2 linked regions of the Homo sapiens genome follow. The protein of the gene in region 2 interacts with the protein of the main gene of each other region in a pairwise test. Each region holds a gene or a part of one and is shown on either strand. Other genes may lie near its edges.

Region 1 (2,918 bases), on a different chromosome or scaffold from region 2:
GGCACCAAGTCCTGAGACTGCACAAACCAGCAAGGCCCTGGGCCCCAACGACAAAACCATTTTTTCCTCCTAAGCCTCCAGGCCTGTGATGGGTGGGGTTGCTGTGAAGACCTCTGACATGCCCTGGAGACATTTCCCTCATTGTCTATGCTATTAACATGTGGCTCCTAGTTACTTATGCAAATTTCTGCAGCTGGCTTGAATTTCTCCTCAGAAAATGAGTTTTTCTTTTCTATCCCATAGTCAGGATGCAAATTTTCTAAACTTTTATGCTCTGCTTCCCTTTTAAATGTGAGTTCCAATTCCAAATCATCTCTTTGTGAATGCATAAAATTGAATGCTTTTAAGAGCACTCTTGAATGCTTTGCTGCTTAGAAATTTCTTCTGCCAGATACCCTAAATCATCTCTCTCACATTCAAAGTTCCACAGATCTCTAAGGCAGGGGCAAAATGCTGCCAATCTCTTTGCTAAAGCATAGCAAGAATCACCTTTATTCCAGTTTCCAGCAAATTCCTCATCTCCATCTGAGACCACCTCAACCTGGAATTCATTGTCCATATCCCTATCAGCATTTTGATCAAAGCCATTCAACAAGTCTCTAGGAAGTTCCATACTTTCCCACATCTTTCTGTCTTCTTCTGAGCCCTCCAAACTGTTCCAACCTCTGACTATTACCCGGTTCCAAAGTTGCTTCGACATTTTTGGGTATCTTTACAGCAGCACCCCACTCTCTGTGGTACCAATTTACTGCATTCGTCTGTTTTCATACTGTTATAAAGAACTGCCCAAGACTGGGTAATTTTAAAGGAAAGAGGTTTAATTGACTCACACTTCAGCATGGCTAGGGAGGCCTCAGGAAACTTACAATCATGGCAGAAGGTGAAGGGGAAGCAAGGAACCTTCTTCATAAGACAGTAGGAAGGAGAAGTGAAGGGAAGAGCCCCTTATAAAACCATCAGATCTCATGAGAACTCACTCACTATCATGAGAACAGCATGTGGGAAACAGCCCCCATGATCCAATTGCCTCCACCTGGTCTCTCCCTTGACACATGGGGACTATGGTTATTATAGGGATTACAATTCAAGATGAGATTTGGGTGGAGACACAAAGCCTAACCATATCAGCCCTCCTGGGTATGGACTCTTCTGGACATGGACCTTCCTGGGCATGGACACTTTTAGGCATGGGGCCCTCCTGTGCATGAACTGGCCTGGGCATGGACCCTCCTGGGCATGGGCCTTCCTGGGCATGAGGATCTCATGGGCATGGCCCTTACTGGGCATGGACCCTCATGGGCATGGGGTTCTCCTTGACATGGTCCTTCCTGGGCACAGGGCTCTGTTGTGTATGGGCCCTCCTAGGCATGGACCTTTCTGGACATGAACCCTCCTGGGCATGGACCCACCTCAGCATGGACCCTCCTGGGCATGGAACCTCCTTGACATGGACCCTCCTGGGCTGGACCTTCCTGGGCATGAACGCTCCTTGACATGGGCCCTTCTGGTAATGGATCTTCCTAGGCAGGGACACTCCTGGGCATGAACCCTCCTAGGCATGAATCTTTCTTGACATGGAGCCTCCTGGGCATGGAGCCTCCTGGACAGGGACACTCCTGGACATGTATCCTCCTGAGCACAGGGCCCTCTGTGCACGTGACTCTCCCGGGCATGGGGCCCTCCAGGGCATAAACTCTCCTGGGCATGAACCCTCCTGAGCATGGACCCTTCCAGGCATGGGACCCTCCTGGACATAGACCCCCCCCAACCAGGCATGGACACCCTTGCGTATGGACCCTCCCGGACATGGGACCCTTTTGGGCATAGAGCCCTCCTGGGCACGGGACCCTCCTGGGAATGAGGCCCTCCTGCTCATGGACCATCCTGGGCATGGACCTTCCTGGGCATGGGCCCACCTGGGCATGCACCCTTTTAGGCACAGAGCCCTTATGGGGCTCTCCTGGGCATGGGCCCTCCGGAGCCTGGGTCCTGTGAGATGCCATCAGCCGCATGCTTGTGCCATGTCCCTGCCAGAACATGACTGCCATCTCTCTCCAGTCCTGTGGAACATGGAACAGGGTGGGGCGGTGCCTGTGGACATGCAATATGGGATGACAGGATGGGGTTTGAGCCCAGGCCGTGCTGGCCCACACTCACAGGAGGTCTCTGGAGTGCCCTGTCCTTCCAGCTTGGGTTTCGAGATGCCCTCCATGCAGGAGTACAGGAGAGGCAGAAACCAGCAGGACATCGTGCCTTTACCTGAGTGGGCACCCAACCCCTGCCCCTGCCAGACATGGTTTCCAGCCTTTCCCTGAAGGAAGGAGAAGAGGGCTGGGTTCCTTGACAGACCCTGGCCACCCCCTTCACTGCCACCCACCCCAACCCACCCTCACCTGCTTGACCTTGGTCACCCCCCCTTGCACCGCTGTGCAGCCCCTACATGGAGATCAGCTGCTCCCAGCCCTGTCTTGAGCAAGGAAACCTGGGCTGGGGGCCTCTACTGTGGTCCTGCCAGGAGCTTCCAACAGCCCCTGCTCACGCTCCAGGTGGGTGGGGGTGGGAAGGGGTGAAAGGGTCCAAGGGGGACCTCAAAGTGAAGAGCCCCGAAGGGTCCCTGGAAGATGTCCGCCAGCCCTCTGAGCCACGCGCTCCCTCCCTGCCTCCCACCACACGAGTGCGAAACACAGAGGGCCCCACTAGGACTGACTCTGGGTGGGGAGTTTTATTCCAGCCCCGAGGGGCAGCGGCAGGTGTCATCAAGGCTGCACCCTGGCCAGCAGGAACCCACTCTGGCCAGGTGAGCTGGTTCTGGGGGTGGCAAGTGTGAGGCCCCATCCCGGGGGTCTCTGACATTGGCCTTGCTCTGGCCTCAGTCCTCTTGCCCTTGTCCCTGTCCCTCTCTCTTCCCAAGAGAGCAG
Region 2 (3,828 bases):
GCCCAGAAACACTCATACTCTATATATAGAGAAAGACCTGTGGGAAATTACTGAAGAAAAGAACTATTCAATAAATGGGGGTTAAATAACTGATTATCTACGGGGTGGGGGAGGAGGGGAGGAATTAGATACCTTACCTCTTGCACACATATACACAATTCTCAGTAAACACCTAAACATGAGAAGCAAAATTGTCAGCAGTGACAACACGCAAATTTTACAGCACAGGCAAATGAATGGCAAATGAACATGAAAAATTACTGATCTAAGGTCAGGAAAGGAGGTCAAGAAAACACAAATTAAAATTATGAGATACTTTTTTATATATGCTACATTAACAATAAAAACATTGCAAAGGGAAGTAATACTCAAGAGAATATCATCATTTTGGAAAATACCTGGCATTATTTTGCAAAACTTGACAAGCCAACAACTCCACTCTTACGCATAAAGTCTCTTGCATATGTGTACCAGGGGACAGTCAAGGATGTTTTGAGTGTACTGTTTCTACCAACAAAAACTAAAAACAAATGTCAACTGATAGGAAAATGAACACTTAAATTGTGGTATACTCACACAGAATACTATAGAGCAAGTAAACCATCCATGCATATAAGCGCAAGAATGAATTTTAAACATAAACTCAAAAAAGCAAGTTGAGTAAGACTTCACATTCAGACACTATATGTAGAAAGCTTCAAAAAATGAAACAGTATGTTTGGAGAACATACATGTGTGATTAAAAAATGGCAAGGAACAATAAAAAATGACATGGGGAAAGAGGTAAGAAAATAGGAAGAACATACATATAGGTAATTGGCAGCTTTCCATGTCTTTAGGTGTGATGAGTTTTTAAGTGTTGTTATTCATCATACCTTACAAGTAATATATAATTTTATCTATATATCAATCATTACACAATATAAAAAAAATCTTTAGAAGATGCCTATCTCCTAATGAGTCAGTGAATGGTGGGAAAAGTCCATTTTCTATAGACTAAGGCAGCACACTTTTTCTGCAAAGGGCCAGAGAGTGAATAAGTTAGGCTTGTGGACCATATACTCTCTGATGCAACTATTCAACTCTCACGTTGAACTAGACAGCAGCCATAGCCAATATGTAAACAAATGGGTACAGCTATGCTCCAATAAAACGTTATTTATGAAAACAGGTGGACATCTGGATTTAGCCCATGGAGGATATTTGCTGACCTCTGGTCAAAGCTAACTGTTTAAAGTTTATGTTCCATTATTTGCCATTCCATTTCTTTTTAAATTTTTATGGGTACATGGTAGGTGTATATATTTATGGGATACATGAGATATTTTGATACAGGTATGCGATTTATAATAATTACATCAGGGTGTATCTACTGCTTCAAGCATTCATTTGTGTTACAAACGTCCCAATTACACTCTTTTATTTTTAAATGTATAAAGTTATTGTTGACTGTAGTCACCCTGTTGGGCTATCAAATACTACAACAAATTCGTTCTAACTATATTTTCGTACCCATTAATCAACCTCACTTCCCTCCCCATCCCTTCAATGCCTCCCAGCCTCTGGTAACCATCATTCTACTCTCTATCTCCTTAAGTTTGATTATTGTAATTTTTAGCTCCCACAAATGAGAATATATGAAGTGCCATTCCATTTCTTAAACAAAGCATAGACTGTCTGTAAGCTATTTACCACTTCACTTTTATTTCCATTTTAACAACTAGTACATTATCCTTGGCCTTAGGAAAAGCCTCCATCAGTTCTATGTGTTCCCAAAATATAAGCTCATGTGATAACGAGGTCAGGCAATTCAGTTTTTTAATTCATAAAGTGCATTCTTCAGACAGCTTCAAATAATGTCTAATTAAGTAGCCACTAGAAGATCAGAAATTATTAGAATGGACTACAGCTATGAAAACTAATACCAATCTCTTAAATTCAATAAACAAAAATTAAATACCATTAGGTATTTAGTTACATAGTTTTTTAGCCTATGTAAGTAAATAGGGCTGTGAATAGTCTGCCTTCTGCCAAAGTGGAAACCATAATGCCTATCCACCATGGATTACGTCTAAGGTTTTCATATTCTTTACCCTGATTATGAATAGAACCTTTCCTTTTTAATAACTTGTCTTTTAATATAAATTCCAATGACCGAATCCCAGAATAAAAATGTTTACCATTAGTAAACTCAATTGTTTATATATATTTTTTTTACAAGTTTTAACCTTTTGGAAAAACAGAAGCAGATATGATAAAATAATTTCTTGAAGTACTTTTTTAATCCAATTAAGCTGATAATAATCACTTCGAATTTTAATACAATACAATCATGTTCCCAAATTTCCTAGGCTCATAACAATACAGTCTCAATACAAAAGACGTAATAATCTATTTTTATTTATTTTAAATCAAAGAGACCATTCCATTTCCTAACAAACAGGTAAGTTACAAAAGTAGTCCATTTTACTTTTCATCAGTCTTTCCCTGTTTTGAACAAGTTTTTTTGAGAATTCTTAGTTTTAGTTTTTGTTTAGCTTACACACTGAAAATTTTGAGAAGCATCTAAAAAAATCCACAATTAGTGCAAAAAGAGGGGACAATACTTTAAGTCATTCCTTCTATAAAAAGAATTAAGGTTACTAAATGCCAATTTTTAAGCAAATATATAGTTTCCTATTTGCCTTCTGAAAGACAGCAGATATAAAAATAGTTCAATATTAGGTTTAACAAGGTTTGAACAACACATGTACTATCAGCTTTATTTTACCTGCAAAAATATTTTAGCTACACTTGGAAAAAAATAAACTTGAGAATATAACTTCACATTTCTAAGGCCAGATGCAAGAATACTTATTCTTTTCCTTTTAAATAGAAGACATGCCATAAAATTTATGAAAGTTAATTTGTAGGAATGAATACATTTAAAAAATACTGGTTAATCTGTGAGGAATTCCACATTTGCCTATTTAACAAAATTTCATCCATTTCATAAGGCTTTGGTATAAGTGATTCCCAGCACTTCATCATTTATCTTTCTTCTTTGCCTCCTTTACTTCCTTCGTCTGCTCATCCTTCTCCCCTCTCACGTTGACATTTGCTGCTCCTTCTTGATTTTCCCTCTGAGAATTATCAACTATCTGATAGTCCTCAAGGAGAGTGTGTCCTGTTTGTGTTGCAGTTTTCTTCACCATTGCTTTGATACCAATGTTGTTAATATTGTAGGCAGTTACGCCAACATTGACCGCAGAATCCACCGCATGGTGGGTAGCTTCTCCTGCATTATATCCGTATCTTTAAAAGAAAGATTAGAGGACATACAATGAAACAATAAATATAAAATAAGGTCTTCTGAATTAGTATTAAATAAGTCAAATGATTACTGTGTTACCCCTGAAAGCAAAATTAAAGCTTAGGTTTCAATTTAATTAATAACTTAAAACACAGTAGAGAATGAAATCACACTCTGTGACAAAGCAGTATTTTCTCCTTTAGTAAAAACAGTGTGTGAAAATAAACTCAGACTAGCTGAGAATGATGTAATAAAGACTGTCAAGTAAAAATAAAAGTGTAAATTATAATACAGGTCATTAATCAGTCATTATTTCTTTTTTTAATCCTCCCTTTCTAGAAATATGAGGGAAAATATTCACAGAAGCAACTAATCTAGAGTCACGTAAGTAGTTTCAAGTTCTACCTTAACCAGACTTTGGCTATGTCTTTTAATTATGGGAATTTGAGTTAATCTTTAAACAGAGATTCTATGGCATTCTCCCCTGCATCCCACTCTACTGCACACTCACTGGCCTCCTTGCTGTTCCTTGAGCC

What was found.
Region 1: the proteins of SPART (region 2) and GPR35 interact in a two-hybrid assay, tested with the Homo sapiens proteins (one large-scale study listed by BioGRID and IntAct).

Annotation. Positions count from the first base shown.
Region 1 is NC_000002.12:240,631,039-240,633,956, reverse strand, and holds the end of GPR35 (G-protein coupled receptor 35), read right to left. Parts: 3' UTR 798-2,918; downstream 1-797. UniProt on the Homo sapiens protein: G-protein coupled receptor that binds to several ligands including the tryptophan metabolite kynurenic acid (KYNA), lysophosphatidic acid (LPA) or 5-hydroxyindoleacetic acid (5-HIAA) with high affinity, leading to rapid and transient activation of numerous intracellular signaling pathways.
Region 2 is NC_000013.11:36,301,339-36,305,166, forward strand, and holds the end of SPART (spartin), read right to left. Parts: intron 3,295-3,828; coding exon 3,027-3,294; 3' UTR 300-3,026; downstream 1-299. UniProt on the Homo sapiens protein: Lipophagy receptor that plays an important role in lipid droplet (LD) turnover in motor neurons.